Linked DNA regions of Homo sapiens: region 2 is linked to region 1. The links come from fine-mapping of genetic effects on plasma protein levels. Region 1 holds a variant in brackets. A gene starts in the other region. All regions are shown on their forward strands.

Region 1 (16,675 bases):
TATTACAAGGAGCTGATTTATGGCCACAGAGCCCTTGCAGGTGTTTGAGAATGGTGCTCCACAATGGGAAATGGAAACAGGGTAATCAATAACCACCCTGAGACTCCTGCTTTAAGGCTGTCCTTGAAGGTGTGCTGTGGATCTTTTTCCAGCACGTCTGAAGAGCAATCCTTTTGCCAGCAAGGAGCCCTACGGGAGGAGAAGTAAATATTGTCTTTAGACATGGCACAAGGACCAAAGACACTGCCAAGACATCAATACTGAGATATCACAGAGGGCTTGTTGGTGGAGGAGGGAGGCTGGTCACAGGCGGGAAGGTGAGATTTCTTCTTTTGACTGCTGAGATCACTGGACTTGCAGTCAGAAGATCTGGGCTCCAGAGCTGGCTCTATCCTTTATCAGAAAAGTAACCTTGGACACATTACTTAATCTGTCCAAGCAACAGTTTTCGCCTCTGTAAAATAAGCATACTGATAGTACCTATACAATGTAGAGATTAGTTGAGATAGTCAAAGTTCTTTCTGTTCCAGGAAGTGCTTTCATATAGTCTTAATGATGCTTTTGCTCTCATTCTGTCCTTTTCATGTGAACTATGACTTTGGTGAGGGCAGGGCCATGCCATATATAATACTGTCTTTAGGCCTTAGCACAGGGACTGGCACACTGCAGGTGATGAAAGGTCTTTGTGAAGGATTGCATGCATCTTCCCTTCCCTTGTCTTCCTTCTACTTGCTTTCCACTTTGCCCCCTCTTAATTATCCCCAAATACATGTTGAATTTATGAGGGAGCAGCAGGGAGGGCCACTTTGGAGAGAATCATTACTCCACTCCCTTTCACTGCATGGCCTTTTCCCTAGGCTAGTCAGAGAGCTATTTGAGCTAGTTAAGTATAAGACCACTGAGTAAGAATGTTGACTTCCAACCAGGCTGCTATATCCCAGTTTTTTAGCTTAAAAGTGGCTATTGCGGTGCCTTAAATAAGTATAAATCCTGACCAAAAGAGAGCAAAAAGTTTAGCCTGGCTGAATTTTGAATCCAACCATAAACTAGAAAAAGAAGGAGCGGGAAGACTCACCACGAGGCTGTATCAATAGCCCCAGTGTGAGAAGGCTCAAAGAGTCTGGCCTGAAGCTTGAGCTACCACAGCAGTGAGATGATTTCTAATTTTAGAAATATTAAATAACTGATAATGATACGACCTTGTTAAAGAACCATGTTAGGAAAAAAAGGGACACTGTTAAAAATAGCGTACACTTTCCCTGCTGAAGGTTCCAGGTAAAACGTGGGTTCACAACCATAATGTAGGTTCCAGATGACGAGACAACCCACATTGCTGACAAATGTGGCAAGGCCAAGACTCCTGTGTGTCCTGGAAGATACGCATTTTCAGCAACCAGCAGGGCGGCTAAGTATAAGCACTGGGAAATCAAAGAAATAGGACTGAGTCCTTGTTCTCAAGGGGTGTGAAGTCTAGTCACCAGCCTAATGGTGACTCCAAGATATCCTAATTTTAATATGTGAAGCTGTGCTACAGTGCCCAAGACCTAACTGGGGAAAAGCAGCCTCATGCAATGCCTAGAAATGTCTGAAACATTGCTGCTGGCATCCTATAAAACAGGAATCTGAAATGCAAAACCGAAATAAAACCAGCAGGCCTCACTCTGGGAGGACAGAGAAATGGAAGATGCAGTAACCCTGGAAGGTTAACAGAACCCCGGATAGCTTCCCCATCCTGCCCAGTGCCACAGATAGGCACCTCTAAAGCTTGGCTACCTCAAGGATCATTAAATGCTTTTAGCAAAGCTGTCTCTGAGGAGCAACCAGCTTTGAAAGCCAAACTGAAAAATGTCCATCTGATCTTGTAATTGGAGAGAAAGTAGGATCTGTGCCATGATAACACATTAGAGTCATTTGGAGATGAGGGAAAGGAAGGGGTGGTCTCATAATTAGCAGGAGCCTGAGAGTGCAGAGAGGGGATGTTTCTGGAGTCAACACTGGAATTTACTTGGCATCAGATGCCATCAGTCCCTCCCTATGTGACTCTAAACACATGAAGAATTTGCTGAGTACACCTTGGCTAAATCTTATCTGAGTTTCTTCATGTCAACAATACTTCCAATCATACGGTTTAAAACTGGTTCTCCACAGGGGGCAGTTTTGTCCCCCAGGGGACATTTGACAATGTCTGGGGACATTTTTGATAGTCCTCAGTTGGAAGAGATTTTCTACTGGCATCCAGTGAGTAGAGGCCAGGGAAGCTATTAAACTATTTATTGTAAGACAGCCCTTCACAAAAAAGAATTATTCAGCCAAAATGCCAACAGTGCCGAGGTTGAGAAGTCATAGTTAAGAATAATGAATATTTTCTGAACTGCCATCATTTTCAGGATTCTTTTACTTTTATACCTTGAAAACAAAGGAATTGGCTTACCTATCATCACTACAGTAATAGAAAATTCCCAACAATTAAGATGCTCCAATGGTGTTTACTCATTCTTTTTTTTTTTTTTTTTTTTTTTTTTTTGCGGGGCAGCGGGGGGAGTCTTATAAACAGAGACCTTAGACAAGAGGTGAAGGGACTTCTGCAATACTGTCAGAGTCAAATACCTTGAGATTTCACTTTGTTCCCACATCTGAGGCCATCAGCCCTCGCCAGACCTCACAGCCTGAAATAATGTTTTGGAAAAGCCAAATATAAAGATACATGATTTTTTAATCTGCTGGGAGTGGGTGGGACCACACTACTGTTGAGAAAGATCTTTCTAAATAGTAGATTGGATTATGTGGCTCTCTTCTTGAAGCTTTCAATGACTGCCCACAGGACAATATATTGCACTGTTCTTCTCCATCTGGCTCCTACCATATCTCCAACCATCTCATCTTCTGGATCTTCCCAGCTCACATCATTTACCCCAGTTATACTGGATATCTTGTCTTCCCCAAGATGCAACTGTCCCATCACACTTTTCTTGTTTTTAAACATGGGAGTGTTCCCCTGCCCACAAGGTCCTCCACCCTATTTTCCAACTAACTCCTAGCTGTCTGCTAAGAATGATCTCAAATGTCCACCACTTCTAAAACTATTTTCTCACCTGGCCCCTGCTCCTTCCCAATACCCTGGCCTAAGTCTGGTGCCCTTCCCAGAAAAACCTGTATCTGCTTCCAGTATAATACCTACTGTCCTGAATTTCAACTAATTATGCATCATCTCTAGGCACTTTGAAGAGAAATGGTTTCCTGTTCATCTCTGTATGTACATCAACCCTCCGGGTATGGTGCAGGGCTTGAGTCCCTAACAAGCTTTCAACTACTATTTGGGAAAGAATAGAAGAAAAGTACAGGGTAGGGAGGAGGACAGGGTGAGGAGGGAAACAGAAGACAAGAAAGGAATGATGATGGAAGGAAGAAAGTGGGAAGTGAGAAAAGGAAAGAAAAGGCAGGAGGGAAGCAAGTAGACTGGGAAGGAGGAAAGAGAAAGGAGGAAAGGTGAGATGGGAAGAGAGGGAAAGACAAAGAAGGAAGAAGGAAGGGAGAAGGAAAGAGATCAAAAAGAGAGAAGGAAGAACTCTGCTAATATCTCTTGCTTAGAAAAGATTTATTCTGCTCTCTCTGACTTGAATCGAATCCCTGCATTAACTATCTTCAAGAACCACATAACTCTCTGGCATAGCACTTTCCCCATTTGTAATTATAGATGTATCTGTGTGATTATTTACTACAATGCTGCAGCCTCCATGAGGTTGGCTTCTACATTTTCCTTCAGTGTTATAGCTTCAGTACATATTGTGTCTGTGAAAATTATTTGCTAAATAAATGCAAAAGTGGGCAGACTGGTGGAGCAGAACCAGCAGCTAATTTTATTAGTAAAAAGTCAGCCCCTCTGTTTTTTATAAACCAGGCTGGGAACTTAGATTTGGTCTTGTTTAACCTTCACCTAAATTTTTCCATATTAAAAAACTTCTTCTGCTTCTAGAAAGAATTGTTCTAAAGCATTCAAGACAGTGGCAAATACATTCTCACTTTAAAAATCAATCCCAGGAGCAATTTATTACAGGGAAATTTCCTGGACTCCAAGAAGCACCTTGAAGTCAGGAGATGATTAATTTGATATAACTGAAGAGCTGCAAACATCTGCTCCCCGTTGACATCTGCCTCTCATTAAGTTACAGCCCTCTGTCTCCCTCTGCACTGGGGGCTGGCTTGTGTGTTGATCTGGTAACTCTAATTATATGGTAAGCCCAGTGCTCAAGGCCCTTGTGCCAGCCACCTGGTGGGGGCTCAATAAAAACTTGCTCTATTGCATTGTACTCCAGATCCACCCTGAGCACTTTGTAAGTCCTCCATCACTCCTAAATAATAGAAATAAAAAACAGTAATGAGGTTGGTGGACACATTGTCATCCTGTAGCTCTGGCTACGGCTGAATCCAGATAGAATCAAACCCTTGATTGAGTCACATAAACAAACAAATTAAATCCATGAAAAATCTTCCAAATCTGTTATTTGGCATCAGGTTTTGCAATAACTCTTTAATTGTTATCCCTTACCCTGTTATCGCCTTTCCCACCGACGTTGCTATCAATGTAATTGTCTTAAAACACACTCTGATACTGAGCCATCCTATTCAGAAACTTCAGAGGCTCTGCTCTGCCCACGAACACGTACCACCTTCCTAACCTTGACTGTTAAGCCTTCCACTTCTTTGAATAAACCTAACCTCTGTGCCAGTACTTCCCTTCAGACATCCCTGTTTTTAGTTATATGGTATGATTTCTTGCTTCCCAGTTCTGCTAGTGCTCTACCACTTTCATGCCTTAGCAAATGTAACTCACATAAAGCCCACGTGCCATATGGCACCATCTTGATTCAGTGTGTGTCATAGGTATATCAACCCTGACCCAAATAGACATACAAATAATTTAATCTTTACTGCAGTCTTTCATAAACATACCCAAAGCGAGAACATAGAAAAACTTCCTAAAACCTCTCTTCTCCCATTTCTTTCCTTCCTTTCCCCCGATATGCCTAGGCTCACCTAAAGTCTCTCTTCTCCCCAACTCTAAGCTCCCACTCCAAGATATTCTTCAAGCCCACCTTCAGGTTCTTTTGTCTCCCTTCCTAAGCTCTTCATATCTGTATCATTTCAGCCTCCCTGACTTCTTAGAACTTTCCGGTAAGAGCCCTGGAGCTAACTCAATAAACAAAAAAAATTCTTCCAGGCTAGGACATAGGGTAAGGGAAAAAAAATTGAAAAAATAAATTATTTTAGTTTGTCTTATTCCTGTCACATTTACAGTGTACACTCTGCATGGAATACTGTTGGCCCATTTCTAACATCAATACCCCACTCAATAGTTAAAGCCCAGAACAAAAGATCGTCCTCGAAACATTCCATGATGCCCTCTTAGAGAACTTTGCACATTCTATCTTTTCTTATAGCTTTTGGTGTAAATGTCTTATTTCTACTTTTGAAAACTGAGACTCAAGGTCATCTGTAAAACCCTTATTTCCCTTCAATACTCACCTAAATATCACTTCTAGGGCAAAGAGTTTCCTCTATACTCACCCAAAAATTTTTTCCAGGGCAATGGCTTCCCTCACTTTCTTTCTAGCCTTGGCTTGGTTATTTCTTTGATGCCACAGCAACTGGCACTAACCTGATATATCATAATGAAATTCTGTGGATTATTTACGTGTCTGTTTTGCCTTCTCTCACCCCGAACATGTATACTTTGAAAACAGGAAAATCTCTTATTCATCCCCAAACTTATCCAAGTACTCAGCCAAAACATGTTCTCAGAAAATGTGTGTGTACAATGTCATGTTTATGAAGTTATGTATTCTCCACAATATCTGTTTCTATACTGTACTCATTGTAGATTCTCGAAAAGTGTATTTGGAATTGAATTGAACATATATGAAACATTCAGCTTGATTGATTTTCTTCTTTGACATAACTTTATCTGTTTGGTGGTCTAAAAAGGTTTTCAAAGTGAAAAACTGGTGGAGAGAAAACAAAGGATTAAAAATAAACTAGTTTGACCAGTTTCTTTCCCTGTGGATATAAAGCCAAACTTGGAGCTTTGTCTAAGGAAATCACACTGCCAGGCAAAAGATAATAGGCTGAGAGTGGGTCCTTCTTTTGCAGCCTGCAAGGCTGCAAGACCTTTCATTTCTGTATTAGAATATTCTGTTATACTAGGCTCATGTGGCTCCTTTGGTTAATGGTGACAGAAAATGTCACTCCAGGGCCACATAACTGCAAATACTACTGGCCTAGAAGCTGAAACAGATTGATACTATTGGCAAACCACACCTAGGCGGCTTTTTATAAGAGGCGGGAGAAAATAGAGTGATTAAACATAATCACTCTTATGCATCGTGCAACTAATCTCCAACATCCCTGGACTGCTCTCCAGGCTC[T/C]ATAACTTACACCCAATCCATGGAGGTAGGCCCATTAACTATGTTTCCAGTACATAAAGGAGTCTACAAACAAAAATTCATTAATTCTTTCAAAATTCAGTCCTTCTCCTGTGGAGCAGGAGCTTGGAGGAAAAAGGATATTTTTTTGGCAAAGGTTTTGAGTCAGAAGTTCAAGGTAGAGGCAGCCTGGGGAAGAAAAATACTGTTGGTGCCTATGCTCCCTGCTAGCTCCAGCCCCAGGAGTGGGTTATGAACCCATTCCCCTTGAACAGACATTGGTTTGCATGGTGGTATGGTTGTAATTCCAGCCAATGAGGTGTGAGCTGGAGAACTGTGGGAAAGCATATCTTTTCAAAAAAAAAAATCAACAAAAGACACATAAGAAAAGCTGGTCTCTTCTTTTTCTCTGGACATTGTCTTGTCTGGCTGTGTTATGTACAACTGCAGCAGCCATTTTGCAACCAAGAGAGAATCGTAGGCTGAGAATAAAGACAACAGTGGCAGATGTGAAAGAAAAAAAGACCCTCATTCTTGATACTACCATCTCTCTACTGAATAACCAACACTGGAGACCCCTTACTTCTGAATTTCTTGTAATATGAAATAATACATTTCCTTATTGTATTAGCCACTTAGAATTAGGGGGTTTTTTTGTTTTTGTTTTTTTTTGTTTTGTTTTGAGACGGAGTCTCACTCCTGTTGCCCAGTGGTGCAATCTTGGCTCACTGTAACCTCTGCCTCCCAGGTTCAAGTGATTCTTCTGCTTCGGTCTCCCAAGTAGCTAGGACAACAGGCATGTGCCACCACACTTTCATTACTTGAAGCCAAAATAATCTTAATACATTTGGATTACTGAATTAGTTAAAACTTTTGAGGATTATTTTTTTTTTAAGCATAGTTCTTGCACCTACTCCATCACAACAAACAGGTGAGAACCAGTACCTGTCTCAGCCACTTCCTCTTCATATCCCAGACCCCATGCTCGGCTGTGGACCATGTTACTGGTCTTCATCCTCAGCTGAGTGACCCATTGATTTACTAGATTAGGTCTAGACTGAACTATTGATTCTATTAATATATAGTCCCTTAATTACATGCCCAAATCACATACCACCCCTTCCCTCCTCCTTTAGACTTCTAGAACACCCACTTGATAAGCCAGCCTCCTGACACCTGTTGCAAGAAAGGGAATTTAGAACACATGCGGGCAGAGGCAAACTATATGATCTACTCCATGTTCTTGCACTGCATTTATTATGTTTCTGTCCATAGCCAGCACTTGGTTAAGCTCAGTGAATTAAAGGACAAGTTACCTAACCTCTGAGGGAAACTCAAGCTCTGAAAAGCCATTCCTCAAGCAACTACCTGGATATTCCTGTTTTTGAATGCATGAGTTTATTTATTTAATTTATTAAGGATTTAGTGAGCAGTTAATCTAGGCCCCATGCATTCTGCTAAAGATTGGGGATGCAACAGTGAATGAACCTTTTATTCATTCAGCAATCATATAATGAGTTTTTACTATGTGACAGAGAACCATTAGGGCTTAACCTATAAAGGAAAAAATATACAGAGATTACCCAGAAGGAGGGCACAGCAGGGACAGATGTTGTATGGTAGAGACAGACCTCTATCATATACTTATCCAAACACTAGGTAAAGGATAAGAGTAAGGCAAGAGAGAACATTCTAGACCAAGGAAACTGCAAGTACAAAAGCACTGAGGCAGGAAGAGGAATGGCACAATTCAGAAAACCAAAAGCTAGTGTTACTGGAGCACAAGAACAAGGGGGAAGCTATTTCAAGAGGTGGCTGTGAGAAACAGGAGGCAATGGCTCGATCACAAGACATCCTTTATACCATGTCAAGGAATTTGGACCTTTTCCTAAAGCTCCATTGGAAAATTTTAAGCAGGGTTATAAACTGACCAGACTTTTGCTGGAAGGGAGGGCCAAGCCTGGAGTCAGAACGACTAGTAGAAAAATAAACATGAAATAAGGAACATCTTAACAAAGACGGTGGCAATTGGGAATAGAGAAGAGAAGATGAAAGAGACATCAAGTCAGTGGAATCAGTAGAAGATAACTGCCAACAGGCTATTTTAAAAGCAGGGGAGGAAGAAGGACAAGGAGAAGATGATTCCCAGGTTTCAGGGGAAGGCAGTTTGAGAAGGAGTGGAATTAGACTGCATTTAGTTAACGACCTATTGTGTCCAATGTGGGGCATCCAAGTTAAGCATTAAAGACATGCAAGAGAAAAATTTGGGCTGGAAAAAAATAAATTTGGGTTCCACAGCAAATTGTGGGTATTTAAAAATGTGAGAATGGATGAGTTCACCCTGAGAAGCGGTATGTAGTGAAAAGAGAGGAGTCCTACTGGAGATCCCTGAAGACAGTCTATGTTTGAGGGGCTTTGGGCAAGACTACCAATGGAAAGCAATACATCAAACCAAAAGGCTGTTAAATAAAATGTTTAATCCCCCTGCTTTTAAAAATATACCTTTATGGCCGGATGTGGTGGCTCACGCCTGTAATCCCAGCACTTTGGGAGTCTGAGGTGGGCGGATCACCTGAGGTCAGGAGTTCAAGACCAGCCTGGCCAACATGGTGAAACCCTGTCTCTACAAAAATATAAAAATTAGCCGGGCATGATGGGGGGTGCCTGTAATCCCAGCCACTTGGGAGGCTGAGGCTTGACCCAGGAAGTGGAGGTTGCAGTGAGCCAAGATCATGCCATTGCATGCCAGCCTGGGTGACGGAGTGAGACTCCATCTCAAAAAAAAAAAATATAGATAGATAGATAGATAGATAGATAGATAGATAGATAGATAGATAAATATCTTTACAATAATACAAGTTTGAGTGTATAAAATGATGGTTTTTATGTGTCTAAAATTTGGCAAAAATTAATAGGATGACTGAGTTCAATTATTATTTTGAATGTCTGCATGCTCTGTTGATTGCCCAGCAATGTGCAAATGAGGGATTAAAAAAAGACGTGCACAGTTCATGAGTTATTATAAATTTATCCCATGAAATTTATCTCCTTGTCTTCTTTTCAACAAAATCACTAATGATGTTGTTGTAATCAAGATTCTTATATAGTCATGTTCTTTTCACGGTAGTGACAAAATAGAAAACTGAGGCAGTACCAACTGGAGATGTCAACAAAATTATTAAAGCAACATTTCAATTCAGAAATGAACCATTAATTTTATAGTTATGTTTTACATAACTGTAAATTACATGACCCATGTAATTTTACATGGGTCAACAGATGTAGAGAAGGATTTCCCCAAGCCTGAACAGCGTTAGTCACGAGAGCAGTTGTTTAAGGTTATGAGACATACAGTCCCAGTACTGAGTACTGGATCCCAATTGTAGTGGTGCCCTTGTGTCCTTTAATAAATGTACTGGGAGACTGTGACATGTGGGGCCTTCAAGAAGATGCTCCAGGCAGGGCTTCCTGTTGCTGAGTCTAAAGATGCATCTGAGGAGCATCAAGAGTTAAACAGTGGGTGGAAGAAGAGAATCCCGTGACAGAGTTTGAAGTATCATAGCCAGAGAAATTAGAGCAAAACCAAAAGTGGTACTATAAAAATCAAGGGAGAAGAATTTCTAAGTAGTTATCAACAAAGGCAAACATTTCAGAGAGGTGAAAAAAGCAGGACATTGAATAAACGAAATGTGGCATATTCATACAATGGAATGTTATTCAGCAATGGGAAGGGATAAGTTCTGAAATATGCTACAATGTGGCTGAATCTCAAAAACACTCTAAGTAAAAGAAATCAGTCACAAAAGACCATGTATTGTATAATATAACTTATATATAATGTCCAGTATAGGCAATTCCACAGCAACAGAAAGTGTTTTAGCAATTGTTGGGGGATGGCAGAGTGGAGGGAAATGGCAGTGACTGCTAATGAATATGGGGTTTCTTTTTGAGGTGATGAAAGTGTCCTAAATTTAGATTATGTTGATGGTTGCACAACTCTGTGCCATTGAACTGGACACTTTCTATGACTAACTTTACGGTATGTAAATTACATCTTAATAGAGCTGTTTAAAAAAAAAAGAAAAGAAAAAATAGGAAGATATATCTGCTACTTCTAAGATCAAACCACTCTATACAATCACACCAAACATTGTCCATCTAACTATGAAAAATCAAGTCCTGGGAGCCATCAGATGTTTAAGACTAATCTATCTTCCATGATGATTGGCCCATTGCCTCTGACCAAAAAAAAAAGTCTATTTATCGAGAAACAAGGGAATGAGATAAAGGGACCATTTCATAATAAAGGTATTTCACACTAAAGTAAACTTGAAAACAGAGAACATTTATGCAAAAAAAAATCCATTTACTATGTCAGTAATTTTCAGCATTTCCCCTGCTGTTATTGTAGATAATTGAGTAAAAGCTTTTCCTTCTCTACATAAAGCATCAGTTTCCAACTGATTCTCTTAGAAATTTAGTTTTGAGATCTCACTTCAAGATCATGACTGTAGAGTTTATGGGAAATGCATATGTGTTTGAGTAAATAGAACTATTTCCTTTTCTTCAGGCAAATACTTGCAACAACTGGAAAAAAACAGAAGAGGGAAAGAAAGAAGTAAAATCTCCCACCAAGTTTATCAACCCAGAGCCACAGCTACTGTTTTGTAATCTCCAGGCGACTATATATCTAGGCTATGAATCCACATCTTTTTCACCCAACTCACTATTCAAGATTTATGTGATTCAGGGTATTAAATGCTAATATATTTCTGTTGCTCAAATTTTTAATGTACGCATTAGTTCTGAAGTCCATAAGCTGGTTAATATTCACATTCTGGCTAACGCATAGTGTTGAATTTGTACCTTCTAAGAATTATTTTAGACTACAAGTTGGGGATATGATACCCACAGGCAAGCAAAATGTAATGGGGAGCTTAGTAACTTATAAGAAATCTTATCACTCTAACAATAACAAACACAAATAATAGGATAATTAACATATTTTTTACAGTTCATACAACACAGTCATATATAATACTTTGATTTTCATGAAATAGGTAGATCAGGTATTACTATCATCTCCATTTTTAGCTGGATAGACTAAGGTTGGTCAAAACCATTAAATGACTTGGGAACATATCCTTGCTCACTGTTTCCAGAGCCCTCTGTCTGTAACACTCACTTGTGTCTGATTACTTGACACGTGTCTTCCTCTCTAAGTTTCATGGAAACGTGGTCCTAGCACAGCATCTGATGTGCAGTATGTGCTCCATAACCATTTGTTGAATTGAATTGATCAAGTTCCCACAACTAGTGAGGCATGGAGACATGATGTCAGATGTCCATGTCACTTGTTCTTTTAAAGCCTTAGCTGTGTTTTATTTACCTATTGTTACTGTTGGCTCATAAAAATTAGAAGAAGAAGATGCCAAGTGAGACAGGTAGACTGGGAATGTTTATTTCTATACCATAAAATATTTATTTTTATACCTAAAACCACCTGTGTGAAACAGCACTTTGGCATATGGCTTAGTGATCATATGGCTTTATGGCCAGATAGCTCAGTGGTTGCATAGCCCAGTGGTCATAAGCCTCAGGGGTCATATGTCTCCATGGTCACGTAACTCAGTAGTGGGCTCAGTGATCGTATAGCTCAGTAGCTATAGAGGTCTATGAACAGATAGCTCAGTTGTGATATATATAGGCCAGTGGTCACATAGCTCCTTGGTCATATAACTCAGAAGTCATATATCTCAATGACCTTAATGGTTATATAGCTTAATTGTTCAGAGTCAGAGGACATATAATCAGGTCTTTTCCCCAAACTTCACTCTATCCTCTCCCAGATGTCAGTTTTTTAGCACACCACTAAACCTTCCTAAGCTGCAGTTTCCTCATCTGCAAAATGGAGATTAAAAAAAATTAAAATCTCCCCGGATTATTTTCATGGCAAAATGAAATCGGATCTGTAAACCATGCAGCACAATGTCTGGCACTTAAAAAGCATTGATTGTGCATCATTATCATCATTGTTATTATTACTCTTATTATTATTGTGTCCCTAAAGAGAAAGAAGAAAGTCTTTTGGGTTGAACACAGAATTGTCAACAGCAGAAAAGGCAATTTACTGATAACTGATACTTGATTTGGAGATAGGAAAGCTTTTACTCAATTTTCTGCAAGAATAGATGAGTAAATGTTAACTCTGTCATGTCTTCCATGTCACACTGCAACCCCCAGAGGCAAGAACAACATCTCCAGCTTCCTGGGGAGAAGTTCATTGACTTGCCAGTTGAAGAACCCAAAGCCTCCTAGATTATTCTCCTCTCATTCTCTTTCACCAGCCCTGAGTCATTTAATCTCCTCATTCCACCTTCATTGCTATGTGCAGTATTTTTTGTAGGCAATTACCACCCCACTTGATCATTTTAAAGAAGGGAATTTCTAAATCCTTTTGCAGCTTAGAGAAGCATGTTCTTTCATTTGTACACATACACACACACACACACACACACACACACACACACACACTTCCCTTTACTGCTAGGTATTATAATTTCCAATTTCAAATGCTTCTTATGAACACAAGAATTCCCAGCTATTGTGGGATGAAGAACTATGTCTTCCTCTCTGAGTCCCTTCGTCAGAGCCTCCCTGCCCTCCTGTCAGCCTGAGCCAGCCAGCAGCTCAGAATATGGTTGAAATAAATTTATACAGACATTGACACTTCATTATTGTCTTGTGGGTATTAGTAAAAGAGAGTATCAAGAGTAAGGAACTTAGGTATAATCCTGATTTCATCACAGTTTAGGTGACTGAGTTGTCAGCAAATTATTCCATGTCCCCATAACTTGATTTACATGTTTGTTAAATGAAAATATAATACCTAGTTCATTGACCTGTGGTAAGATTACAGAAATAAAAATATTTGGTAAAATATAAGACATTCCTCAAAAATATTTTAATTGTTAGACATGATAGTACAGAGAAAGAAAGGTAATGCAAAATTAATATGAATTTAGGACCCATTGAGTGATGGGTACTCTAACTGCTAAAATGTTACTTTTTTGATGTATGTATCAAGAAATTACCTTGTATCTACATTTATTTTTGTTCAAGAATTCTTTCTCTCTTCCTCTGGTGTGGAAGATGATGGCCAATGCTCTGTCTATATTCCCCTTCTCTCCTTACATCCTTTCTCCTGTCAAGCTCAGCTCTTCGCATTATTACTACTGTCAGCTTCAGACAAATATCTCACAAATTTACCCTGAAGCCTAGGGAGTCAGGAGACCACCAAGGAGCAGCACCAAGCAGAAGATTATCACATCATGGAGAAGCCCCAAGTGGTACCACTTCACCTAGATGGTGAGCTCCCTGGAGGTCAGTGCCATGAAGGACTCATGGGGAGATTTGGACCATTAAGAATGGGTAGAATTTAAATGGGTAAATATTAAAAAAGAGAAGGCTATCCAGAACATGGAAAGGTGTGATCCAGCATTGTAGGAATGTATAACAAGGGCATCTGGAGCATATGCATGAAGACTTTGGTTCATTTATTCATTCAACCATTTATCAAGTGCTGTATTACTTTTCTATGGTTGCGTACCAATTTACCACAAAGGTAGTAGCTTGAAAAAACACATACATATAATCTCACACTTTCCATGAGTTAGGAGTCGAGTCATGGCTTAGCTTGCTTCTCTGCTTGGGGTTTCATGAGGATGCTACTGGGCTACATTCCTATCTGGAGTCTCAACTGGAGGAGAACCCACTTCCAAGCTCATTCAGATTACTGGAAGAATTCATTACTTGCAGCTTTGTGACTGAAGTCCCATTTTCTTGCTGGCTGCCAGCTGGAGACCCCTATCAGGTCCTAGAGGCCACTGTCATATTCCTGCCACATGGCCGTCTTCAACAGGCCCTCTCACAACATGAAGGCTTCTTTTTTCAAGGCCATCAGGAAAATCTCTCTCCCTCCAGGAGGACTCAGTCCCTCTTTTAAGGGTTTTAATCTGATTGGGTTAGACCCACCCTGGATAAGTTTCTCAAAGCCAAGTAATTAGGGAATTTAACTACATCTGCAAAAATCTCTTCACCTTTACCAAATAATGTAACCTACTCCCAAGATTGGCATCCATCATATTAACAGATCCTTCCCACACTCGAAGGCAGGAGATTATATAGAGTATGTACACTATGGAGTGGGATTCTTGAGGGTCTTCCTATAATTCTGCCTACCACAAGCATCTATTATCTGCCAAGCAAATAATTGACAGAAATAATTTGAACAATAATCTGATGTGTTGTCTTCAAAAAGTTATAAATTGGATGATAAGCACAACAAGATTATAGGGCTAGATGAATAGGATTAAATGGGGGAAAAATACATGTAAAGTGTTTATCTCAGTGCCTGAAAAATGAAAATTAGTGTTCCAAAAAGTTAGTTCTTATTATTAAATAATTAAAATACAGTCTACTAAGAGGTGTATTAAAGTTCTGGGCAAGACATATATTGAATGGGGGAAATGCTCAGTTGTTTGGGAGATTAGAAAAGCCTTAAAAAATAGAAGCTATTGGATCTCAGTCTTCTCACATATTTTACCAGATTGGCCTTATTAGCCCATTTTTTAAAATGTTTGGAAACTGAGACTCAGTTAAGGAACTTACCCAAGGTCACTCAACTAGTAAAAGATGAAGGGATGAAATGCACGTTTCACACCGGCATCTTTTGGTGTGGGAACGCTTGTCCCTCATGGTATGTGTGTGTGTCTACAGCAACAAGGAGTCCATGTTAGCCATAGGGAGACATGTGTGGGGGTAAATACCCATATATCTGCCCTATCCATCGATGCTGAGTAAGAATGGAGCCCAGCATTATCAACCATCCTGATTATTCAAAAGAAACTTGAGAAACAAATTTTGTTTCTCAAAATTTGTTGGTGGGTTGATCACTTGAGGTCAGGAGTTCGAGATCAGCCTGACCAACATGGAGAAACCCTGTCTCTACCAAACAAGCTTATGTAGATAACATGGGTTTATGTCACTAAAAATCAGGAAAGGGGATTTAAAATTAGATAAAACAAAACAAAAAAGTAGGTACATTTGGTAAGAGAATTGCCTAATACCTAATCAGAATATTATATTAGGAAAATTGTCCTGGTCCTGGTGGGCAAGATGCATTACAAGGGAGCAAGGAAGTACCTAGGTGGATAGTTGATCCAAGGAAGCTGCATTTGTACTTCAGATGTGCAGCTGGATCAGTGGAGAACATTGGCAGAAGTGCTGGAAATGGGAATGAACAAGTAAGTAGGAGTTGGATAAAAGGCCTGGCAGTGTTGAACCCCTCCTCAGGACTCCCCCACCCTTTCCCCGAAAACCCTCTTCCATCTTCCCTCCCCTACTCACGTGCCATGCCTCAGTCAACCTGCACCACCCAAGTGTTGGCAATGCACTCCAGGCTAACCTTTTCAATGCCTGTTTGCTTGGTGTTTTCATCCCTGGGAATAGCCTTCCTCTTATTCTCCTCTGACAAAATCCTCATCTTCTGTCAATGCTCATATTAAGTACCACCTATTTCAAAGAATGGTCTATAATCTTTCCTGGCTTCCCAAATTGGTGTGATCTCTAGTTTCTCCAAACACTCAGATTGTACCTAAAAATTCACACCATACCACTTAGCACTTTGATACATGCTTTTATGGGGTTCTCTAATTGATTTTAACTCAGTACAAGGAAGGCCTTTCCAACAATTAGAGCTCTCTGACTGCCTATGAGGGAGGAGCTGCCTGTGAAGGCAGTGAACTGATCCTCACTAAGTTTGCATGCAGTTTCAGTCATTGTCAGGAAATTGAAATGAATCCCCAAACCTCTGTAAAGATTTTAACATCTAATAGGAATGTGGGTCTGGAAAAATCTCTGAAGTCCTGTATCACTCAGAAATTCTGGATTATATATAGCAAGGTAGCATTTATTCTATAAACATCTTCTGAGCACCTACTTTGGGCTCCAATCATAAACACAAACTCGACCAGGCGTAGTGGCTGGGATTACCCCTGTAATCCCAGCACTTTTGGCAGCCCAGGTGGGCTGATCACTTGAGGTCAGGAGTTCGAGATCAGCCTGACCAACATGGTGAAACCCCGTCTCTACCAAAAATTAGCCCAAGTGTGGTGGTGAGTGCATGTAATATTAGCCACTTGGGAGGCTGAGGCAGGAGAATCACTTGAACTTGGAAAGGGGAGGTTGCAGTGAGC
Region 2 (16,675 bases), not on the chromosome of region 1:
AGCATGGCCTGGAGAGGTGAACAGAAAGAGAAAAGACATGCTTATGCTTCATGGACATGGTTTAGGGCTTGGCTCAGCTTCTAGAGGTGACAAGAAGCCCCCATTCCCTCCTTCTGTCCTCTGCTATGGGGCCTAGAGCAGCAGGAATCCAAAAGCAGTTTAAGGACAAGGAGGGCACAAGGTCTGGATGGAGAGCATGAGTTACCCAGCTGGAACTCTGACATAGGTTGACAGCAGCATCCCCCATTCCCAGGTGCTCATGTCTTCCCTTCTTGTGCCTTCCCTTGGGCACTAAGTTTGGCACAGTGGCTAGGATGTAGCATTCCTCACTGGGGCCATCTGTCACATCAAGAAGGGTTCATTGAGTGCCTCTGGGCAGGACACCCCCCGCCCACTCCCTAGACCATCTCCCTGTCTGTACCACTGAGGCAACTGGCTTAGCTCAGACAAGGCAAGCCTGTTTCTTCTCTCTTGCTGCCTTGCATGGACTAGCACTGGTGCTGATAGTGCTGGTCTGAAAATGCAGCCAGAGTCCTGAGTGCTTAGTAATGTCCTTCCTGAGCGCAGGCTGGGAGTGTGGTGCACATTTGCCTGGCAATTTGCCATTCCTCGAGCAGGTGCTGTCTCTAGAGAAAAGTCCCAGAGGGAACCCAGGTGAAAGTTTTCAGAGACACTAAACTAGCAGTAGGAGAAATCCTGAGACACCTAGAGTTCTTCTAAGACCTGAGAGGGTTTGGAAAAGAAGTATGTGGAGTCTGGGCACGGTCGCTCATGCCTGTAACCCCAGCACTTTGGGAGGCCGAGGCGGGCAGATCACTTGAAGTCAGGAGTTCGAGACCAGCCTGGCCAACATGGCAAAACCCCATCTCTACTAAAAGTATAAAAAATTAGCCAGATGTGGTGGTGCGTGCTGTAATCCCAGCTACTCGGGAGGCTGAGGCAGGAGAATCTCTTGAACCCGGGAGGTGGAGGGTGCAGTGAGCCGAGATCGTGCCACTGCACTCCAGCCTGGGCAAGAGAGTGAGACTCCATCTCAGAAAAAAAAAGAAGTCTTATATGGAAAGAGGACATGCCAGGTAGGCTCAGTCAGGCAGAAAGCTAGTGTTGTGGGTAAGCAAGAGCAACTACCCAACAGGGCACCCATTTACTATCTAAGATGGTCAGGAACTGAGACCAGGATAAGAGCAGGACCTGGGACATTAACTGTTTTGGGTATCTTTTCTCTCAATGAGAAACCGTAAAGTTATGAGAGTGAAAAGAGCTGATCAGATTCGCAGAGGCTAGGAACAAAGCCAGAGGGACTTGTGCAAAGAAAGGGGTCACCAGGCCAACTGGGGTGGTGGCAAGTGGGGGGCTTCCTGCCCAGAGGAGTGCCTTCTTCTTTGACTGCTGGTGATTCTGGGCTGTGGATGACCCCTATTTCTCACTAGCCTCTTTCAATTTTGAAATCACCACTTCCTTGGGTATCCTGGTAGTCTCTAGAAACACCTGGGTGAGCTCACTGCCAGCAGCGGCTACCTTGTTACACCTGTTCTGGCAGAGGCTCAATCATGAGCAGCAAGGGCCAGACCCAGGCCAGAGCAAGGGCATTGTTCTGTGCCCCGCAGCTCCCTCACCCCTCAGGCCCTGTGTCTGATTCTGGGGAAGAATGAAAGGCAATAGGCATTCTGTCTACAGGCTCAAGATGGCACAGAAGGCACCAGCAGCCACTGTGGCTTGAAGGACACTTGGAGAGGGCAGACCCGGGTTTTCAGGCCCAGGATTCAGATGAGGCATCTTAGCTGGGGCAGCAGATGGAGTGGGCAGAGTTGTGGTCCCCCTCAACCCCTGCAGTGCCCAGTTTATGCTAAGCTTTCAGAGTACAATTTCATTGAAAAGGCCATCTCCTCTGAACATGGATTGGAAAATCAGAGACCTACTCCAGTAAGTATATTTTTTAAAGTAAAGACCTGAAGCTATGAGAAAAACAGGCTTGCCCTGCTTTTCCACAGGCTGTTGGCACCAGGATGGGTTTAGAACCCCAGCCTGTGAGTGCCTGGGTTTGTCTCTCTTCCACTGTCCTTTCTGAAGAAATCAGTGCAGAAAAGAGCCTAGAGATAAATTAGCATTGCATTTTTCCACCTGAAGCTTCCACACTGTGGCATCCCAGGTCTAGATAGTGTCACACCCACTCTTCCACCCTGTGCACCCCCAGCTCAGAAAGCAAATCCTCCCCTGGGCTGAGGCCACTGAATAAGGGGCAGAAGAGCACCATAAGACCTCCTGTGCTCCCCACCTCCTGCGCCCATGCCTCCTAGACCAGAACAGCTACACAGACCCTCCACACCAATAGGTTGAATTGCCCAGGTCGGCAGAGGGATATTTATAGGATGTGGAGAAAATAAAAAGAAGGCAAGAACAGAGACACTTACAGGTTTCTTTTTGTTAGGCCCCAGGAGCTCCAAGCAAACTAGCCTTTGCTTGGCAGGCACTCACTATTTATGCCTGCCCTGTACCCTGAGCTGCCCAGCCCCAAAAACTCCCTTCAAGAAGTGGGGCAATTTTCTTCTTTATTGACTCACTCACTCTTATCCCCACCTGCGTTCTGGAAACCTGCCACTGATATTCACAATACTATGCACATCCATCACTATAGTTTGCAGAACACTATCAGGCCTTGAACTCATCTGCACCTTTCTCACTGCAGCTCTGTGAATTAAGTGGCATCATCAGTGTCTGTATTTTATAGATGTCTAGAAATCAGGAGTCCAGAGACCAGCAGGTTGCACAATGACCTACAGCGATTGCAAAAGGAACTCACAACTGCAGATCTTAAGAGCCAAGACCTGCTGTGTCCACTTCTCCTCTTCCTTTGTCTCAACAGCACTGCCCAGATATTGGGAAAGAGCTGAGAGCTGCTTGGAATACCTGGGCAGGGGTGGGGCAGGTAGAGTGGCTGCAGAGGCAGCAGCATGTGGGGGCAGCAGCTAGGGAGCTGCCACCTGGAAAGAGTTGCTCTTTTGCATGCTGCTCTAGGCCTCAGAGAGCCCCTGCCTTGCTTGTCTTTTGTGGGATGGATTTCCCTTAGCAGACCTCTGCCTTGCCTTGTTCAGGCTTGTTCTCCCTGCCATCTTAGCTGGTGTTTGTCTTGTGCACTGTTCTTGTAACTAGTTAGGACCCCTGAGCTGATGCTACTTTTATCCAATCTTTTAGTCTGTATGTATTTTTTTTTTTTTTGAGACAGTCTCACTCTGTCACCCAGGCTAGAGTGCCATAATGCATTTATAGCTCACTGCAGCCTCAAACTCCTGGGCTCAAGTGATTGTCCTGCCTCAGCCTCTTTACAGGTGAGCATGATCACACCTGGCTAATTTCTCTTTTTAATTTTTTACAGAGATGGGGTCTCACTCTGTTGCCCACGCTGGTCTCAAACTCCTGGTCTCAAGCAATTCTCCTGCCTCAGCCTACCGAAGTTCTGAGATTACAAGTGTAAGCCATCATACCCAGCACCAATCTGTATCTTTTAAGTGGAACATTTACTCCATTTATTATCAAGGTTAATATTGATATGTGATGTTTTGTTCCTGTCATGATAATTGTTACCCAGTTGCTTTTTAGTCTCAATTATGTAATTGCTTTATATAATCTGTGAGTTTTTCACTTTAATGTGCTTTTATGATGAGGAGTATTGTCCATTCATTTCCATGTTTAGAACTTTAAGCATTTCTTGTAGTGCTGGTCTTGTGGTGACAAATTCCCTTTGCATTTGTTGTATGGGAAAAACTTTATTTCTCCTTCATTTATGCAGCTTAGTTTAGCAGGATACAAAATTCTTGGCTGGCAGGATTTTTGTTTAAGTAGATTAAACATAAGACCCCAATCTCTTCTGGCTTGTAAGGTTTCTGCTAAGAAGTCCATTGTTAGTCTGTTGGGTTTTCCTGTATAGATTAGACATTTCTCTCTTGCTGCTTTTAGGATGTTTTCCTTCACATTGACTTTGGATAGTCTGATGACGATATGCCTTTATGAGGTTTCTCTTGTAAAGCATCTTCCAGGTGTTCTCTGAGCATCTCCTATCTGGATGTCTAATTCTCTAGCAAGACCAGGGAAGTTTTCCTGAATTATTCCCTCAAATAGGTTTTCCAAGCTTTTAATTTTTTTTCTTCTCCCTCAGGAATGTCTATATATTGTATATTTGGTAACTTTATGTAATTCTATATTTTTCAAAGTCTTTGTTCATTTTTAAAAATTTATTTTTTCTGTATTTCTGTCTGACTAGGTTAATTCAAATGACTGGCCTTCAGGCTCTGAAATTATTTCTTCTGCTTGGTCTAGTCTTTTGCTAAAAGTTTCAACTATATTTTATAGTTCCTTCAATAAATTTTTATTTCTAGAAGTTCTATTTGGTTTTTGTTTTTTAATCTCTATCTCTTTTGTAAATTTTTCATTAATATCCTGAATTATTTTTCTGATTTCCTTATGTTAGTTTTCAACTTTCTCTTGTATCTCATTGAGCTTCCTTACAACTCATATCTTAAATTCTTTATTTGTTATTTCAAAATTTTTATATTGGTTAGGATCCATTGCTAGGGAGCTGGTGTGATCCTTTGGGCATGTCAAAATACTGGTTTTTCGTACTTCCAGAGTGCTTATGCTGATTTCTTCTCATCTAGAGAACCCGTTACTTCTTACTTTTGAACTTACTCTCATTTGAATGGGATTTTTTCCCCCTTTGAAGGTGTGACTGTATGTTGTGTGTGATCATTTGGCTTCAATTTTGGGTGCCTTCCGTGGGTCACAGCTCTGTATGAGTTCCTTGGTCATAGATAGCTTTTGTGTGGTGGCTTTATTATGCTGTATAGATAGCTTTTGTGTGGTGGCTTTATTATGCTGATTGTAGTAGCAATGTATTGGGCATATGAGCAGGAATACTACCTTCTGAGGGGCTGGGAATGTGGAAGTCTCTGAAAGTTTATCTCATTCCCCAGCACTATACCCTCTGTCAGCCTGTTTTTTATTTGGTTGTGCAATTCAATCTGCATCCCAATAAAAGCTGGCTGTGGCATAAGCTGATGGGTACTTGGTCTTTGTTTTCTGGGAGGGGATCTCTGTTGTCACAGGCAGTTGGCTGGTCTGTGGATGGCCTGATTCCCTGAAGGGAACACAAAGCTTTGGAGGGGGACACAAAACTGAGGGGCACTAAACGACCAAGCTCACCCTGGGAAACCCCAATTATGAGCAGAAGCAACTGCCTTGATGGGAGTGGAAATGGGAGCTCATGGTGAAAGGCACTGATGTCTCCACCAGAGTGGGAAGGAGTATACCAGCTCCACATCCTGGGAAGGCAGGAAGGCAATCCACTTTCCTAAAACACCCTTGTCCCGGAGCTTGTGACCTTCAGTTCAGATAGACATTGTCCTTCATCTCCAGGCTGCAGTGTGATGGAGGTCTGCAGAAAACACCCGTCCTGTGGCTACCACCAAAATGGCCTTGGGATAGAACCTCTTCCCTCAGCAGCTCTGATATTCATCTGCATTCTGCTATGGGAATGCTGCTGCTCCATATGGGGAGGAGGATAAACTCTGCCCTTCGTGCAAGGCTTGGCCAGCAGGCACCCCATCAATGGGAGTGCAGCTGCCCCCAGGAGCCCTCAAAAGCCATCCCCAGGTGCACTTGTGCCAGCTCCCAGTAGGGACAGCCAACGGTCTATCTGGAGCATTGAGTGAGGGGGTAGGAGAAGACTCCCTTTCCATGTTTATTCCCAGGCACCAGTGTCACCTGCCTACTGGTGCAGAACCACACTCCTCCCCTTCAGACCCCAGAACCATGCCTGTGTCTCTGCTGGGAGGGGCACAGCCAGCCTCTTCTCACACGTGGGGAGCTCTTAGGCAGAGGAGAGCAAATGAACTGGTTTCTTTTATCCAAAGGAGTACGTTGGCACAGACACTCTCCCTTCTCCTAAGAGCTAGACTTCTAGGAATTCCATAGCTCCCCAGGGTCCCACCCGTCCCCTGTGGTTGCTGCAGTCTAAGTGGGTTCTGGGGAATGTTCATGGAGGATCTAGTGATGCAGAAACACAAGGGCTGGGATTCCTTGGGAAGAACAGACCCACAATGGGTGCATAACCAGTATGACACCTGCCACTTCAACTCAGGTTTTGGGGGAGAGCGAGTGTGCCTGCATGAGCTGGCCACCCAATGCTCTGCCCTAAAGAAGTTCCCAAATTGCCACTGACAGCAATGCCTGGGCTCACAGGTGCAGAGGGTTTCTCCAACAAGTTCAGCAGTCCATAGTCTGCCACAGGAGTGAGGGGAGCAACTTCCCCTCCTACCCTCTCCATGGGACTCTATGTTCCTTGGAAGTCAATCTCTGCAAAACTCTTGCTGTCTTCTTTTTCAGCACCACAGCTTTTTCCTGTGGGTTCCCCAATAGGTCATGTCACTCATTCCTCAGTATTCCACTCAGACCATGATTATTCAACTGCAATTTTGGTTCTTTGTTCTGAGGAGAACTGGTGTCCAATGTCTCTAGACAGCCATCTTGGGGAAAGGAAAACTCTACTTGTCTTTATAATTACTTTTACCAGTGAAACTTATACTTTTGTGTGCATTTGTGTTTCTGTTTAACCTCTTTTTATTTCAACCTCGAGAACTTCCTTTAGCACTTCTTGCAAGGTGGACCTAGTGGTGACAAACTCCCTCAGTATATGTTTGTCTGGGATAGTTTTTATCTCTCCTTCACTAATAAAAGACACATTGCTGGGTACAGAATTCCTGATTGACAGGTGGGTTTTTTTTTTTTTTCTTTCAGTACTTTGAATATATCATTTCATTCTCTCCTGGTCTGCAGGGTTTCCACTGAGAAATCTCGTGATAGTCTTTTGGAGGTTCTCTTTTATGTGACAAGTCAGTTTTCTCCTGCTGCTTTCAATTTTTTTTCTTTGTATTTGACTTTGGACAAACTAATTATAATGTGTTCAGTATAGACCTCTTTGGGTTTGTCCTATTTGGGAAATTTTGGGCTTCATGAATCTAGATATCTGTTTCCTTCCCTAAATTTGGGAAGTTTAAAGTTACTATTTCTTTAAATTTTTTAAATTACTTTAAATTCTACCCCCTTTTCTCTCTCTTCTACTTCTGGGACACCCATAATACACAGAAAGGTTTGCTTCATCGTGTCCCATAAGTCCCATAGGCTTTCTTTACTCTTTTTTATTCTTTTTTTCTTTTTGTTCCTCTGATTGGATAATTTCAAATGACCTGTCTATGAATTTGCTAATTCTTTCTTCCACTTGATTGAATCTCCTGTTGAAGTGCTCTATTCAGTTTTCAATTCAGTCCTTGAGGTCTTCAGTTCCAGGATTTTTGTGGGTTTTTTTTTTTATATAGTTTTTATTTCTTTGTTATACTTCTAATTTTGTTTATGTATTGTTTTCCTGATATTTTTTCATTGCCTTTCTGTGTTCTCCTGTATCTTGTTGAGCTTCTTTAAGATGATTATCTGAAATTATCTGTTGAGCAGATTGTGGTTTGGTTTGGTTCATTTCTTTTGGTTTGGTTACTGGAGCTTTATTAGATTTATTTCATGGTGTCATGTTTGCCTGATTCTTTATGATCCTTGTATGCTTGCATTGGTGAGTCTGCATTTGTACAAGCAGCCAGATCAGAGATTCTGGGTAGGTTGGCTGATAGGGTCAGCAGACAACCCGCTGTTGGTGACCACAGGTGGGCCTATTGCTGAAATCTGTGGGTAGGTTTGCTGCATGTGTGTGCTTGCTGCAGGTGTCCGCACATGGAGGACCTGCTGCTGGGGTACACATTTGAGCAGGCCTATTGCCATTGTCTGCAGGTGGGGTCTGCCTGCTGTCAGTATCTGCAGGTATATTTGGCTAATTGTTGTAGTGGTGGGTGGGTGGTGGGTGCTGCAGTAGGGGTCTGCAGGTGGGCAGGTTGCCTTGGAGTTTGTGGATGGAGAGGATCACCAACAGGTCTGCTAGTGTGCATGGTCACTGCTAGTTTGCAGGAGGTGGAGCTGTTTGAGTTCTGTTGACTAGCCTTCTATTGGGGCCCTGGATGGACAAGTCTGTTAATAAGGGAATAGGATTTCCTTCTCAATGAGGCTTTTTGCAGTCTTAAGTCCCCCAAGTGTTAGGAGAAAAGCTGAGTGTTGGGAGAGAAGCCAAGGCAGGGCTTGGAACAAGTCCACAGTGCAGAGTCTAAAACCCCTGGTGGCCTTGGGAATGTATCTAGACTTGCTGGCTCCTTGCTTCTAGCACTCCCATTATCTCAAGTAGCCATATGCTTCAAAGAAAATGCTAAACCATCACAGCTATAGCTCATTCACTTGATACACCACTTCCTTTCAACCCCCACATCCTCACCACCTGTTTCTTTGTTTGATCACCAATAAATAGCTTGGGCCTCCAGAGCTTGGGGCCTTCGCAGCCTCCATACTAGCAGTGGTCCCCTGGTGCCAATTTCTCAACTTGTCTTTTCTCATTCCTTTGACTCCACCAGACTTCGTAGCCCCCACAGCCTGGTGTTGGGTCTGATCACCCCAACACCAAGGAGCTGGAACCTTTTACTTGGATCCCAAATGTTTTATAAAGGCATTTTGTCCATGAATAGTTGTTAAATTGGTATTTCTGAGCAGGAAGGAAGGCTGGGGATCTTCTGTGCTGCTATCTTCTTGGTGTCATGAGACTATAATTATAATGTTTTGAAGAGTAAGGTTTTATCTTAAAATATTTACCACCTTGCTTTGCAACTAAGTTGCAAAGAAAGACAAATATAGGGATCCTGAAGTAAAACAAAACAAAACAAACAAACAAACAAACAAAGAAAACCCTGCCATACCTTATGTTCTGCAAAATCTTGAAGCTTGATAGTCTAAACCTGTAATCCTCCACCCCCTCTCTCCACCACAACCTCACAGAAAAGGTAGGATTGCTTATGCTCAGGTGCTATCTGTTGTTGCAATCTAATCTGTTCACTAGATTCTGCAACAATTGTCAATGGGCTGAATCCAATTCACATGCATATGCAGGTTCTATGAATGTCTAACCTAATAAAAATGACAAAGTGAGAGTGCTTGAAACTACCTTTTTGGATGAGAATTCTAGGCACTTTACTCTTTGTTTCTTTAAATATTAACACAATAAAGGAAAAACACTTCACTGTGTAGCTCTATTATTCACTAGAGAAAGGAGTGGTTAAAGAGAAACATCTCTACTGCATCCTGACTGGTATTACTTCTGTCTCCTGCATCATTTGAAACTACTGAGAAAGAGCATGTCTTTTAATCTTACTATTGATAACTGAGTCAAAGACAAAGAGGCAGAAAAAAATATGAAGCAAATGTTGGCGGGAAGTAAAGAGATACAACCATACTAATTTCAAAAAAACAGAATTTTCATCTAAAAGCATGACTTAAAAAATCGTTATAGAATCCATCTGATTTTATATGAAAATGATTTATATATTTATTGTGAAAATGTTAACATTGTGAGAAAAAAGTTTAAAATCACCAAAATGGGGATGGAGCCAAGATGGCCGAATAGGAACAGCTCCAGTCTACAGCTCCCAGTGTGAGCGACACAGAAGACGGGTGATTTCTGCATTTCCATCTGAGGTACCGGGTTCATCTCACTAGGGAGTGCCAGAGAGTGGTTGCAGGACAGTGGGTGCAGCGCACCATGCACGAGCCAAAGCAGGGCGAGGCATTCCCTCACTCAAGAGCACAAGGGGTCAGGGAGTTCCCTTTCCTAGTCAAAGAAAGGGGTGACAGATGGCACCTGGAAAATCGGGTCACTCCCACCCTAATACTGTGCTTTTCCAACAGGCTTAAAAAATGGCACACCAGGAGATTATATCCCGCACCTGGCTTGGAGGGGCCTACGCCCACGGAGTCTCGCTGATTGCTAGCACAGCAGTCTGAGATCAAATTGCAAGGTGGCAGTGAGGCTGGGGGAGGGGCATCTGCCATTGCCCAGGCTTGATTAGGTAAACAAAGCAGCCGGGAAGCTCGAACTGGGTGGAGCCCACCACAGCTCAAGGAGGCCTGCCTGCCTCTGTAGGCTCCACCTCTGGGGGCAGGGCACAGACAAACAAAAAGATAGCAGTAACCTCTGCAGACTTAAATGTCCCTGTCTGACAGCTTTGAAGAGAGTAGTGGTTCTCCCAGCACGCAGCTGGAGATCTGAGAACGGGCAGACTGCCTCCTCAAGTGGGTCCTTGACCCCAGAGCAGCCTAACTGGGAGGCACCCCCCAGTAGGGACAGACTGACACCTCACACGGCCGGGTACTCCTCTGAGACAAAACTTCCAGATGAACGATCACGCAGCAGCATTTGCGGTTCACCAAGATCCGCTGTTCTACAGCCACCGCTGCTGATACCCAGGCAAACAGGGTCTGGAGTGGACCTCTAGCAAACTCCAACAGACCTGCAGCTGAGGGTCCTATCTGTTAGAAGGAAAACTAACAAACAGAAAGGACATCCACACCAAAAACCCTTCTGTATGTCACCATCGTCAAAGACCAAAAGTAGATAAAACCACAAAGATGGGGAAAAAACAGAGCAGAAAAACTGGAAACTCTAAAAAGCAGAGTGCCTCTCCTCCTCCAAAGGAATGCAGCTCCTCACCAACAACGGAACAAAGCTGGACGGAGAATGACTTTGATGAGCTGAGATAAGAAGGCTTCAGAAGATCAAACTATTCGGAGCTACAGGAGGAAATTCAAACCAATGGCAAAGAAGTTTAAAACTGTGAAAAAAATTAGAGGAATGGATAACTAGAATAACCAATGCAGAGAAGTCCTTAAAGGAGCTGGTGGAGCTGAAAGCCAAGGCTCAAGAACTACGTGAAGAATGCAGAAGCCTCAGGAGCTGATGCGATCAACTGGAAGAAAGGGTATCAGTGATGGAAGATGAAATGAATGAAGTGAAGCGAGAAGGGAAGTTTAGAGAAAAAAGAATAAAAAGAAATGAACAAAGCCTCCAAGAAATATGGGACTATGTGAAAAGACCAAATCTATGTCTGATTGGTGTACCTGAAAGTGACATGGAGAATGGAACCAAGCTGGAAAACACTCTGCAGGATATTATCCAGGAGAACTTCCCCAATGTAGCAAGGCAGGCCAACATTCAAATTCAGGAAATACAGAGAACGCCACAAAGATACTCCTCGAGAAGAGCAACTCCAAGACACATAATTGTCAGATTCACCAAAGTTGAAATGAAGGAAAAAATGTTAAGGACAGCCAGAGAGAAAGGTCGGGTTACCCACAACGGGAAGCCCATCAGACCAACAGTGGATCTCTCAGCAGAAACTCTACAAGCCAGAAGAGAGTGGGGGCCAATATTCAGCATTCTTAAAGAAAAGAATTTTCAACCCAGAATTTCATATCCAGTCAAACTAAGCTTCATAAGTGAAGGAGAAATAAAATACTTTACAGACAAGCAAATGCTGAGAGATTTTGTCAACACCAGGCCTGCCCTAAAAGAGCTCCTGAAGGAAGCACTAAACATGGAAAGGAACAACTGGTACCAGCCACTGCAAAAACATGCCAAAATGTAAAGACCGTCAAGGCTAGGAAGAAACTGCATCAACTAACGAGCAAAATAACCAGCTAACATCATAATGACAGGACCAAATACACACATAACAATATTAACTTTAAACATAAGTGGGCTAAATGCTCCAATTAAAAGACACAGACTGGCAAATTGGATAAAGAGTCAAGACCCATCAGTGTGCTGTATTCAGGAAACCCATCTCACATGCAAAGACACACATAGGCTCCTTCGTAGAGGAAGATCTACCAAGCAAATGGAAAACAAAAAAAGGCAGGGGTTGCAATCCTAGTCTCTGATAAAACAGACTTTAAACCAACAAAGATCAAAAGAGACAAAGAAGGCCATGACATCATGGTAAAGGGATCAATTCAACAAGAAGAGCTAACTATCCTAAATATATACGCACCCAATACAGGAGCACCCAGATTCATAAAGCAAGTCCTTAGTGACCTACAAAGAGACTTAGACCCCCACACAATAATAATGGGAGACTTTAACACCCCACTGTCAACATTAGACAGATCAACAAGACAGAAAGTTAACAAGGATATCCAGGAATTGAACTCAGCTCTGCACCAAGCAGACCTAATAGACAACTACAGAACTCTCCACCCCAAATCAACAGAATATACATTTTTTTCAGCACCACACCACACCTATTCCAAAATTGACCACATAGTTGGAAGTAAAGCTCTCCTCAGCAAATGTAAAAGAACAGAAATTATAACAAACTGTCTCTCAGACCACAGTGCAATCAAACTAGAACTCAGGACTAAGAAACTCACTCAAAACTGCTCAACTACATGGAAATTGAAAAACCTGCTCCTGAATGACTACTGGGTACATAACGAAATGAAGGCAGAAATAAAGATGTTCTTTGAAACCAACGAGAACAAAGACACAACATACCAGAATCTCTGGGACACATTCAAAGCAGTGTGTAGAGGGAAATTTATAGCACTAAATGCCCACAAGAGAAAGCAGGAAAGATCCAAAATTGACACCCTAACGTCACAATTAAAAGAACTAGAAAAGCAAGAGCAAACACATTCAAAAGCTAGCAGAAGGCAAGAAATAACTAAAATCAGAGCAGAACTGAAGGAAATAGAGACACAAAAAACCCTTCAAAAAATTAATGAATCCAGGAGCTGGTTTTTTGAAAGGATCAACAAAATCGATAGACTGCTAGCAAGACTAATAAAGAAGAAAAGGGAGAAGAATCAAATAGACGCAATAAAAAATGATAAAGGGGATATCACCACCGATCCCACAGAAATACAAACTACCATCAGAGAATACTATAAACACCTCTACACAAATAAGCTAGAAAATCTGGAAGAAATGGATAAATTCCTCAACACATACACCCTCCCAAGACTAAACCAGGAAGAAGTTGAATCTCTGAATAGACCAATAACAGACTCTGAAATTGTGGCAATAATCAATAGCTTACCAACCAAAAAAAGTCCAGGACCAGATGGATTCACAGCCAAATTCTACCAGAGGTACAAGGAAGAGCTGGTACCATTCCTTCTGAAACTATTCCAATCAATAGAAAAAGAGGGAATCCTCCCTAACTCATTTTATGAGGCCAGCATCATCTTGATACCAAAGCCTGGCAGAAACACAACCAAAAAAGAGAATTTTAGACCAATATCCTTGATGAACATTGATGCAAAAATCCTCAATAAAATACTGGCAAACCGAATCCAGCAGCACGTCAAAAAGCTTATCCACCATGATCAAGTGGGCTTCATCCCTGGGATGCAAGGCTGGTTCAACATACACAAATCAATAAATGTAATCCAGCATATAAACAGAACCAAAGACAAAAACCACATGATTATCTCAATAGATGCAGAAAAGGCCTTTGACAAAATTCAACAACCTTCATGCTAAAAACTCTCAATAAATTTGGTATTGATGGGACATATCTCAAAATAATAAGAGCTATCTATGACAAACCCACAGCCAATATCATACTGAATGGGCAAAAACTGGAAGCATTCCCTTTGAAAACTGGCACAAGACAGGGATGCCCTCTCTCACCACTCCTATTCAACATAGTGTTGGAAGTTCTGGCCAGGGCAATTAGGCAGGAGAAGGAAATAAAGGGTATTCAATTAGGAAAAGAGGAAGTCAAATTGTCCCTGTTTGCAGATGGCATGATTGTATATCTAGAAAACCCCATCGTCTCAGCCCAAAATCTCCTTAAGCTGATAAGCAACTTCAGCAAAGTCTCAGGATACAAAATCAATGTACAAAAATCACAAGCATTCTTATACACCAATAACAGACAAACAGAGAGCCAAATCATGAGTGAACTCCCATTCACAATTGCTTCAAAGAGAATAAAATACCTAGGAATCCAACTTACAAGGGATGTGAAGCACCTCTTCAAGGAGAACTACAAACAACTGCTCAATGAAATAAAAGAGGATACAAACAAATGGAAGAACATTCCATGCTCATGGGTAGGAAGAATCAATATCGTGAAAATGGCCATACTGCCCATGGTAATTTATAGATTCAAGGCCATCCCCATCAAGCTACCAATGACTTTCTTCACAGAATTGGAAAAAACTACTTTAAAGTTCATATGGAACCAAAAAAGAGGCTGCATTGCCAAGTCAACCCTAAGCCAAAAGAACAAAGCTGGAGGCATCATGCTACCTGACTTCAAACTATACTACAAGGCTACAGTAACCAAAACAGCATGGTACTGGTACCAAAACAGAGATATAGATCAATGGAACAGAACAGAGCCCTCAGAAATAATGCCGCATATCTGCAACCATCTGATCTTTGACAAACCTGACAAAAACAAGCAATGGGGAAAGGATTCCCTATTTAATAAATGGTGCTGGGAAAACTGGCTAGCCATAAGTAGAAAGCTGAAACTGGATCCCTTCCTTACACCTTATACAAAAATTAATTCAAGATGGATTAAAGACTTGCATGTTAGACCTAAAACCATAAAAACCCTAGAAGAAAACCTAGGCAATACCATTCAGGACATAGGCTTGGGCAAGGACTTCATGTCTAAAACACCAAAAGCAATGGCAACAAAAGCCAGAATTGACAAATGGGATCTAATTAAACTAAAGAGCTTCTGCACGGCAAAAGAAACTACCATCAGAGTGAACAGGTAACCTATAAAATGGGACAAAATTTTTGCAACCTACTCATCTGATAAAGGGCTAATATGCAGAATCTACAATCAACTCAAACAAATTTACAAGAAAAAAAACAACTCCATCAAAAAGTGGGTGAAGGATATGAACAGACACTTCTCAAAAGAAGACATTTATGCAGTCAACAAACACATGAAAAAATGCTCGTCATCACTGGCCATCAGAGAAATGCAAATCAAAACCACAGTGAGATACCATCTCACACCAGTTAGAATGGCGATCATTAAAAAGTCAGGAAACAACAGGTGCTGGAGAGGATGTAGAGAAATAGGAACACTTTTACACTGTTGGTGGGACTGTAAACTTGTTCAACCATTGTGGAAGTCAGTGTGGTGATTCCTCAGGGATCTAGAACTAGAAATACCATTTGACCCAGCCATCCCATTACTGGGTATATACCCAAAGGATTATAAATCATGCTGCTATAAAGACACATACACACGTATGTTTATTGTGGCACTATTCACAATAGCAAAGACTTGGAACCAACCCAAATGTCCAACAATGATAGACTGGATTAAGAAAATGTGGCACATATACACCATGGAATACTATGCAGCCATAAAAAAGGATGAGTTCATGTCCTTTGTAGGGACATGGATGAAACTGGAAACCATCATTCTCAGCAAACTATCGCAAGGACAAAAAAACCAAACACCACATGTTCTCACTCATAGGTGGGAATTGAACAATGAGATCACATGGACACAGGAAGGGGAACATCACACTGTGGGGACTGTTGTGGGGTGGGGGGAGGGGGGAGGGATAGCATTAGGAGATATACCTAATGCTAAATGATGAGTTAATGGGTGCAGCACACCAACATGGCACATGTATACATATGTAACAAACCTGCACATTGTGCACATGTACCCTAAAACTTAAAGTATAATAATAATTAAAAAAAATCACCAAAACTCCACCTTTCTTAGACAATCAATTTTAACATTTTGGTGATCATGTCTTTATTATTTTCTCTATGTATATGTGAATCTGTGCTCTGTGTATGTAAATATACACACAAGTGAATATTTTTATATATACTTACATACAAAATATACATTATATGATGAAAATCATGTAATGCATCCTATTTTTTCCTTATTAATAGCTTTATAATTTTCTAAAGCTATTTTTTAGTTCTTCTCCTGTCTTCCTCTCCTCCATTCACCTGTCTTATGTTTTTTAACTCCATTGTCCTCCACAACCAAGTAACATTTTCCATGTGGACCTCTTTACATTCACTTGTCTATGCTTCTACAGTCATTTATCAGCATATATGCATATATTTATGCTTGTAAGTGTGTTGGGAGAGTTTCCATTTTTTAAGGATCATATTAAACTTGCTTCTATTTGTTAAATTTTTCTTTTTAACAATACGTTGTAAAAATGTATTCAACTCCGTGCATATAAATTTAACCCACTCTTTTTTAGAGCAGTATAATTTTGCCTGGTGTAAATTTATCAAAACCTTTTCAATGATATTTCTATTAAAGTTGACTCTTTCAGGTTTTATAACCATGAAAAGTATTACAATAAACTTCTTTGTCTCTATTCTATCTGTGTATATATCTATCTATCATTTATCTATCAGTCTACCATCTGTCTACCTACCTTTCCTTATTCCTGGTGTCTTTGTTTCTATTAAAAAGATTTCCAGCTGGGCACAGTGGTTCACATCTGTAATCCTAGCATTTTGGGAGTCTGAAGTGAGAGGATTCTTTGAGGCCAGGAGTTTGACACAAGCCTTGGCAACATAGAGAGACCTTGTCTCTGCAAAAAATTAAAAAATTAGCTGGGCATGGTGATACATTCCTGCAGTCCTAGCTACTTGGCAGGCTGAATCTGGGAGGCTGGAGGATCAATTGAACCCAGGAGTTCAAGGCTGCAGTGAGCTATGACCACCACTGCACTCTAGCCTGAGTGA

Direction of the effects. Alleles are on the strand shown, and positions count from the first base shown. The strength of an association depends on the size of the effect and on how common the allele is.
With allele C in place of T in region 1, the plasma level of the protein whose gene starts at base 2,451 in region 2 is lower (moderate association).

What was found. PIP is the chance, under the fine-mapping model, that this variant and not a neighbour inherited with it causes the effect. Protein levels are from antibody-based Olink assays in UK Biobank. Linkage for the fine-mapping came from a reference panel and not from the study's own genotypes, which makes the PIPs less certain.
Region 2: SFTPD starts here. The variant in region 1 is fine-mapped to the plasma level of the SFTPD protein (UK Biobank, PIP above 0.99).

What each region holds. Positions count from the first base shown.
Region 1 is chr9:106,727,927-106,744,601 of GRCh38, forward strand. No RefSeq gene overlaps it. Among named protein-coding and RNA genes, the nearest start is that of LINC01505, 120 kb to the left of the region's middle. The variant T/C (reference allele first, on the strand shown) is at 6,423.
Region 2 is chr10:79,946,655-79,963,329 of GRCh38, forward strand. It overlaps SFTPD (surfactant protein D), which reads right to left and starts at 2,451. Exons shown (of 8, transcript NM_003019.5): 1 at 2,412-2,451; 2 at 1-8. The coding sequence starts at 5.